2 linked regions of the Homo sapiens genome follow. The protein of the gene in region 2 purifies or fractionates together with the protein of the main gene of each other region. This does not show direct contact. Each region holds a gene or a part of one and is shown on either strand. Other genes may lie near its edges. The genes, in order: PLTP and LILRB1.

The links.
Region 1: the proteins of LILRB1 (region 2) and PLTP purify together in Homo sapiens (co-immunoprecipitation; one large-scale study listed by IntAct). This does not show direct contact.

Annotation. Positions count from the first base shown.
Region 1 is NC_000020.11:45,905,395-45,909,202, forward strand, and holds part of PLTP (phospholipid transfer protein isoform a precursor), read right to left. Parts: intron 2,511-3,808; coding exon 2,447-2,510; intron 2,362-2,446; coding exon 2,298-2,361; intron 966-2,297; coding exon 874-965; intron 1-873. UniProt on the Homo sapiens protein: Mediates the transfer of phospholipids and free cholesterol from triglyceride-rich lipoproteins (low density lipoproteins or LDL and very low density lipoproteins or VLDL) into high-density lipoproteins (HDL) as well as the exchange of phospholipids between triglyceride-rich lipoproteins themselves.
Region 2 is NC_000019.10:54,629,178-54,633,590, forward strand, and holds the start of LILRB1 (leukocyte immunoglobulin-like receptor subfamily B member 1 isoform 2 precursor), read left to right. Parts: upstream 1-1,306; 5' UTR 1,307-1,453; coding exon of another isoform or gene 1,454-1,456; intron 1,457-1,775; exon of another isoform or gene 1,776-1,788; coding exon of another isoform or gene 1,789-1,896; coding exon 1,897-1,930; intron 1,931-2,093; coding exon 2,094-2,129; intron 2,130-2,322; coding exon 2,323-2,610; intron 2,611-2,757; coding exon 2,758-3,060; intron 3,061-3,286; coding exon 3,287-3,583; intron 3,584-3,838; coding exon 3,839-4,141; intron 4,142-4,413.

The sequences.
Region 1 (3,808 bases), on a different chromosome or scaffold from region 2:
ACAGCTACTGTTTACATATATTGTGCATACTCATGCTTCTTTGCCAAGTACTCTAAGCTCTTCACATAGATCGACTTCTTTAATCTGCATAACAACGTGTGTTTTCTTACTAGATTATTTCCATTTACATGTTAGGAAACTGGCCAACTGAAAACTTATGCTTAGGGCCGTGCAGCTAGTCAGTGGCAGAGCTAGGATTTGAACTTCAGGCATTCTTTTTCTCTTTGTAGAGAAGGAGGTCTCACTATGATGCCCAAGCTGGTCTCAAACTCCTGGGCTCAAGCGATCCTCTCGCCTGGGCCTCCCAAAGTATTGGGATTACAGGCATGAGCCACTGCACCCGACTGATTCTAGCTCCCGAGTCTGCACTCTGAAACTGCTATACTCCTCTGGGAGACCAAAGGTAGTGGCTACACACTGGCTATGTGGCCTTGGGCAAGTGACGTCACCTCTATGAGTAAGTCTCCACATTCCTAAAATTAGGATGATGTTAGTACCTGACTCACAGGGTTGTGAGAGAATGAAATGAGATTATTTGTATAGAAATTTATGTCCAGCTCCTTCGGGGGAGTTGGGGAAAGGCCGTGCATGAGCAAAGGCCCTGAGGTGGGAAGCCAGGGTCCAATTTGGGAAAGAGCAGCTGCAAAGAAACAGGATGAGATATAAAAGGTGGGGCCAGGTAAGATTAACAGGGGCTCAAATGCCAGACCCAGGAGGCTGAACCTAATTCTGTAGTAACAGGGAGCCATAGCATTCTCAGTAATGGGAGTGGCCTCATCAGAGCTGTGCTTTAAGAAGTAAAATCTTGCAACTTAGCAGAGAAAGAGGTCTTGTTAGGAAGTCAGAGGTCATACACCAGCCCAAGCAGCTCACCCGGAAGTCCATGTCCAGGTTGCTGGTGGAAGCCACAGGATCCTTCATGAGGGAATAGTCAATGCCAACAAGCTCGTCCACAGAACTGCGCACTGCAGGAAGGGGCTCAAGTCACTCACGGCTGTGTGATGTGGGATAAGGTGCTTAACCTCTCCAGGCTCAGAGGCCCACCCATAAAATGAGGATACATCCTTCACAGGGTTGTCATGAGGGTCAAATTAGTTTTATGTGGAAAGCACTTAGGGCCTGGTGTGTAGTTAGGTGCTCATTAATGTTAGTTATTATTATTACTACCACTATAGAGGTTTCAAAAAAATAACTAAACAAGATGGCATGGGGGGGCCGCGCATGGTGGCTCACACCTGTAATCCCAGCACTTAGGGAGGTCAAGGCGGGCGGATCACCTGAGGTCAGGTGTTCGAGACCAGCCTGGTCCACCACGGTGAAACCCCGTCTCTACTAAAAATACAAAAATTAGTTGGGCATGGTGGTGGGCGCCTGTAATCCCAGCTACTCAGGAGGCTGAGGCAGGAGAATCGCTTGATCCTGGGAGGTGGAGGTTGCAGGGAGCCAGGATTGCACCACTGCACTCCAGCCTGGGTGACAGAGCGAGACTCCATCTCAAAAAAAAAAAAAAAAAAAAAAGATGGCATGAGGTTCCTTTCCCTTGGTTTCTCCTACCTCCTCCTTCGCTTCCCATGCCTGTGTGTTAGGTGTGATGGGAAAATACCTTTGCCCCACAGTAGACAGAGGTCATGGCTTAGAAAAAGGGAATTCATGGCCAGGCACAGTGGCTCATGCCTATAATCCCAGCACTTTGGGAGGCCAAGGTGGGCAGATCAGGAGGTCAGGAGATCGAGACCATCCCGGCCAACATGGTGAAACCCCGTCTCTACTAAAACACAAAAAACTAGTTGGGCATGGTGGTGCACGCCTGTAGTCCCAGCTACTCGAGATGCTGAGGCAGGAGAATTGCTTGAACCCGGGAGGTGGAGATTGCAGTGAGCTGAGATCGCGCCACTGGACTCCAGCCTGGCAACAGAGTGAGACTGTAAGACTCCGTGCAAAAAAAAAAAAAAAAGAAAGAAAAAGAAAAAGGGAATTCATGTTAATTGAGCACCTATTAGATGCTAGGTGATGAAGACAAATGGGATGCCAGTGATCAGCATGCACATATTGAGGACCTTGACAACTATTCTCTCAGATAATCCTCACAGCAACCCCAGGAGGAGGCACTGCCAGCCAAGTGAGGAAACAAGCACTTTGCCCAGACAGAAATGAGCACTTCACCCAAAATCGCACAACAAGTCAGCTCCAGGGGCCACATTTGAACCCAGGACTGTTCAACAGCAGGGCTCGGAAGGGGCCTGCTCTGAGGTGCTGCATGACAGCTGCACACCCAGACTCACCCGCCACCAACTCACCAGGCACGGTGTCCAGGAGGGAGTTGAGCAGGACCGTCCCTGCGTGGTAGAGGACAGGGCAGATCTGCGAGGTGGGAGCCAGAGTCAGGGCCTTCTCAAAGTGAGAGCATGCCCACCCTTGCCACCCTGCGACCTGTCGCTGCCCACACCTGCTGGTTGAGGAGGAAGCGCATCCCTGAGGTGATGAACGTGGAGAGAAAATCATACACCTTCCTGTGAGGAGAGGAGAGGCCGGATGAGCCCAGAACCTGCCTCCACCCCAGTCCAGGTCCAGGAGAAATCAGTGACTAGGGAAATAGTGGCAGTAGGAGTCCTCAGCTTCAGCCTGAATAACAGCTCCTCCACGTAGGTTTTCCAAGAACCAGGCCCAAATTCCCTCTCCAGTCTAATTCTCAAGACCTCCTGACCTACTCTCTGGTCCCATCAGTCAAATGAATCCACCCACATTGCCTCAAACCCACTCTGAGCATCCCCACATCCATCGGCTTACTGATGCCCTCCCTTCCGCCCTCTGCATTCCTACTCTGTATTTTCCCATCTGAGCTCAGATGCTTCCTCTTCCAGGCAGTCTTCCCAGATTCCCCTCCTCTGAATCCCCAAAGCATTTTCTTAGTCCTTCTCTCCAGGCCCTGATATCAAATGTTTTTTGCTCCAGATAGGCTCTGAGCTCCTTCCTGCATCCTCAGGGACTGGCATACACTTTGTTTGATGAATAAATAATACTGACAGTGTACCAACACCAGGTTATAATCCATCATCTTCTCTCCCCCATCCTCTTCCAGAACAAGAACAATATCCCCTTCTCAGCAGCAAAAATAAAAAAATAGGCCGGGCACAGTTGCTCAGGCCTGTAATCCCAGCACTTTGGTAGGCCGAGGCGGACAGACCACCTGAGATCAGGAGTTTGAGACCAGCGTGGCCAATATGGCGAAACCCTGTCTCTACTAAAAATACAAAAAAAGTAGTTGGGCATGGTGGTGCATGCCTGTAGTCCCAGCTACTTGGGAGGCTGAGGCAGGAGAATCGTTTGAACCCAGGAGGTGGAGGTTGCAGTAAACCGAGATGGCGCCACTGCACTCCAGGCTGGGTGACACAGTGAGACTCCCTCTCAAAAAAAAAATTATTATTTTTGTTATTATTATTTAGAGATACCAATTATTGAGAATCCAGTACATGGCCAAATGTGCATATCAGATAGTCCTCACAGTTACTCTTATCTAAGTGGCCAGCACTTAAATATACATTTATCATATGCCAGGTGCTGTTCTAAATTTTTTTTTTTTTTTTTTTTTGAGATGGAATCTTGCTCTGTCACCAGGCTGGAGTGCAGTGGCACGATCTCAGCTCACTGCAACCTCCGCCTCCCGGGTTCAAGCGATTCTCCTGCCTCAGCCTCCCACGTAGCTGGGACTACAGGCACGTGCCACCACGCCCAGCTAATTTTTGTATTTTTAGTAGAGATGGGGTTTCACCATGTTGGCCAGGATGATCTCGATCTGTTAACCTTGTGA
Region 2 (4,413 bases):
GACTTGTGTATATGAACGGCAGACTTTTCCTATATGCAGGCCCAGCAGAGACAATGTCGGGGCTGGAGTACGAGCAGGTGTTGGTGCATGTAGCGGGTACTGAAACGAATTGCCTGTGTATCCCAAGAAACAACTCTACTGAGAGATCATATTCTCTAGGGGTTTATTTTTGTTTTTATTTTTATTTTAAGTTAAAGCTTCGGGTAGAACACCCAGTGTCTCCTTGTCCATCTGAAGAAGATGCTGCTATGTGGAAGCACATCCTTGAGATCCACAAGGAGACACTGGGCAAGGAGACGAGGGTGCCCCACTGTGCAGAAGTCTCCCTAATAAATGATCTATGAACACCCTGGTGTTTAGTGCTTCTTTCTTTGGAATCCCAGCAGCTCTGTCACTGGACGGTTTGGTGCACTCCCTTGAGGGAATTCCCCTGGGCTGCTTGGGGTCCACTCCAGCCTCAGGTGTAGCTGGAGGACGCAGCCTCCCACCTTGGTCTGGAGCCCTGAGCCCCTCACTGTCATTGCAGATCCCGAGGTTCCTCTCCTGGCTCCACTCAGTGGTGGAAACCTCCACCCTAATGAGCCCTTGATGGTCCCAGGTCCCTGTGGCATCTCACCTGTGGCCTCTGTTCTTTCCTGTGGATCCATCTACACTTGGGAACTTCCACATCTCTTTTTCTGCTCATGACATTGATGCTCTGGGTATTTCAGAAATGCCCAGATAGATGGACAAATACACGTCCATCTATCCATTAGGGTCAGATGTGAGATCCAGAGTGGACACATCAATCACCTACGTAGACTGTGGAGTCCAACGCCAAGATCCTCTTATGTCCCAAACACCTCAGGTCTTACCCTGGTCTGGAAATCAGGCACAAATGAGCCCCTCCTAATGTTCCAGCACCACTGACCGTACAACCACTGTCACGAGTGGGATTTGTGACAACAGTCGGCAAAGGAAGAATCTGAGGCTCAGAGATGGTTCATTACCGCCCGAGGTCACGTAGGCAGTGGATGATAACCAGTCGTTGAATAAATATAACTCCCCCCCAACTCCCCAAATCAAAGCTCAAATATAAGTCATTGTTCCCAAAGCGTTGAACAGGGATTGAGGTGCAGAGGGACGGCCAAGTAAGCAAAGGGCACCGAGGAGGCAGGAAAGACTCAGAGATTTGTTCCCGGGGGGTGGGGTTGGACACTGTAGCAAAATATTTTAAAAAGGGGAAGTTAAGAGGGGACTATTTGGTTGAAAGAAAACCCACAATCCAGTGTCAAGAAAGAAGTCAACTTTTCTTCCCTATTTCCCTGCATTTCTCTTCTGTGCTCACTGCCACACGCAGCTCAGCCTGGGCGGCACAGCCAGATGCGAGATGCGTCTCTGCTGATCTGAGTCTGCCTGCAGCATGGACCTGGGTCTTCCCTGAAGCATCTCCAGGGCTGGAGGGACGACTGCCATGGTAAGGACCCCACAACACTGAGCTGATGGACGGCTGAAGGAGGGAGGGTGACCATGTGGGAGGCTGTGAGAAGGAAGGAGATGCCTCCGCTACCCTCGTCAGGAAGGGCAGACACAGGAAGGAACCAGTTTTATTTGCTGCTACATCCTGGCTCTCAGTGGGATGAAAACAAACCAGACAGACGGTGGCTGGGGGTCAGGAAAGGGCCCATTACCATCTGAAATGATGCAGAGGGCCTAGTGACTGCCCCCACCTCAGCCCTAATGGAATGAGAGCAAGGGTCCTGGGGAGGGCAGTTCCACTTCCTGTGTGGCTGCAGATGACAGCACCCCATGAGAAGAAGGACCCAGCCTCCGATTGGCCACACTCTGTGTGTCTCTCTATCCTGCCAGCACCGAGGGCTCATCCATCCACAGAGCAGGGCAGTGGGAGGAGACGCCATGACCCCCATCCTCACGGTCCTGATCTGTCTCGGTGAGATTTGAAGAAGGAGGGGAGCTTCTAACCTAAGAGGGACCTCACCCCACAGCCAAACTCTTGTCCCTAAGGAGACCCCAGGGGCTCACAAAGATCCCAGGGAGGGGAGGACCTGCCCAGGCTTCAGGGGGCAAATCCCTCACCGGGAACTCTCTTCCAGGGCTGAGTCTGGGCCCCCGGACCCACGTGCAGGCAGGTGAGTCTGTCCCCAGCTCTTCCAGGTCCCTCCTCCTCACTGGGGACAAGGGGCCACCCCCGTGCCGCTGGGGATGGGGAATAGCAGTTCTGGGCTGACTGATGGGGGCGTCTGGAGGGTCCTGGGCTGAGAGCTGGAATCTGCTGGGTTGGGTGGGAAATGAGTTAGAATCTGACTCCTGATTTCCTTCCAGGGCACCTCCCCAAGCCCACCCTCTGGGCTGAACCAGGCTCTGTGATCACCCAGGGGAGTCCTGTGACCCTCAGGTGTCAGGGGGGCCAGGAGACCCAGGAGTACCGTCTATATAGAGAAAAGAAAACAGCACCCTGGATTACACGGATCCCACAGGAGCTTGTGAAGAAGGGCCAGTTCCCCATCCCATCCATCACCTGGGAACACACAGGGCGGTATCGCTGTTACTATGGTAGCGACACTGCAGGCCGCTCAGAGAGCAGTGACCCCCTGGAGCTGGTGGTGACAGGTGAGCTGACACTCAGGGGTCCCAGCCCCAGACTCTGCCCTCAGGAAGGGGGACGGCTCTCAGGGGCTTCTCCCTCTCACAGCCCAGCCCTGGGGATGACGCGGGTGGTCTGAGCCACATTTAACACGGTGCCTCCTTCTCTCCTAGGAGCCTACATCAAACCCACCCTCTCAGCCCAGCCCAGCCCCGTGGTGAACTCAGGAGGGAATGTAACCCTCCAGTGTGACTCACAGGTGGCATTTGATGGCTTCATTCTGTGTAAGGAAGGAGAAGATGAACACCCACAATGCCTGAACTCCCAGCCCCATGCCCGTGGGTCGTCCCGCGCCATCTTCTCCGTGGGCCCCGTGAGCCCGAGTCGCAGGTGGTGGTACAGGTGCTATGCTTATGACTCGAACTCTCCCTATGAGTGGTCTCTACCCAGTGATCTCCTGGAGCTCCTGGTCCTAGGTGAGAAATTCACAGCATTGCCTGGAGTTCCCTGAGTCTCCAGGCAGGTGGGGAGCAGCCGCGTCTCAGGGCAGTTCCAGGTGGGATGATGTTGGGGCGAGAGGGCTCAGGGCTCCTGGGGCCAGAGACACAGGAAGATCAGCAGTGATGTGGCCCCGGGGGAAAGGGAAGATTTGTGGGGAAGCCTGAGGGTCGGCTCCTGGAAACCATGACCACCTTTTCCCAGGTGTTTCTAAGAAGCCATCACTCTCAGTGCAGCCAGGTCCTATCGTGGCCCCTGAGGAGACCCTGACTCTGCAGTGTGGCTCTGATGCTGGCTACAACAGATTTGTTCTGTATAAGGACGGGGAACGTGACTTCCTTCAGCTCGCTGGCGCACAGCCCCAGGCTGGGCTCTCCCAGGCCAACTTCACCCTGGGCCCTGTGAGCCGCTCCTACGGGGGCCAGTACAGATGCTACGGTGCACACAACCTCTCCTCCGAGTGGTCGGCCCCCAGCGACCCCCTGGACATCCTGATCGCAGGTGAGGAGCCCAGCGGGTTCAGTCAGGGACCCAGGCTCCGCACAGGCCCTGCCGGGGGAGCTCAGGTAGTGATGGCCGGGATGAGGGATGGGGGTCCCAAGGGAGGGAGAGACAGACAGAGACAGGGGATGGGCGGGGAGGGGGAGACTCAGAGAAAACAGAGACAGAGACACTGAGGGTCCCAGAGGGAGACCTGGGGAGGTGTCAGCTCAGAGCAAGGTGGGGCAGCCCCTCGCCCATCCTTCTTCTCTCCAGGACAGTTCTATGACAGAGTCTCCCTCTCGGTGCAGCCGGGCCCCACGGTGGCCTCAGGAGAGAACGTGACCCTGCTGTGTCAGTCACAGGGATGGATGCAAACTTTCCTTCTGACCAAGGAGGGGGCAGCTGATGACCCATGGCGTCTAAGATCAACGTACCAATCTCAAAAATACCAGGCTGAATTCCCCATGGGTCCTGTGACCTCAGCCCATGCGGGGACCTACAGGTGCTACGGCTCACAGAGCTCCAAACCCTACCTGCTGACTCACCCCAGTGACCCCCTGGAGCTCGTGGTCTCAGGTGGGGGCCTTGACCCTGTCCTCTCTGAGCTCAAAGTCTCAGCTCAGACCCTGCCCCAGGAGAGCTCTGGGCTGGGATGGAGTGAGCGGGGGTCTGAGAGGGGCTCAGCCAGTGGGAGACTCACCCTCAGAGGGAAGGAGGAGAACAGGGCCCTCCCAGGCCTGCCCACCCTCAGTGGCATCGCCAGCATCATGGACAGGAGAGGCGGGTGGAGGGAGGGGCCTGGGGAGGCCACAGGTCCCATGTAGAGAAATTTGGTTTGAGGTGGAGAC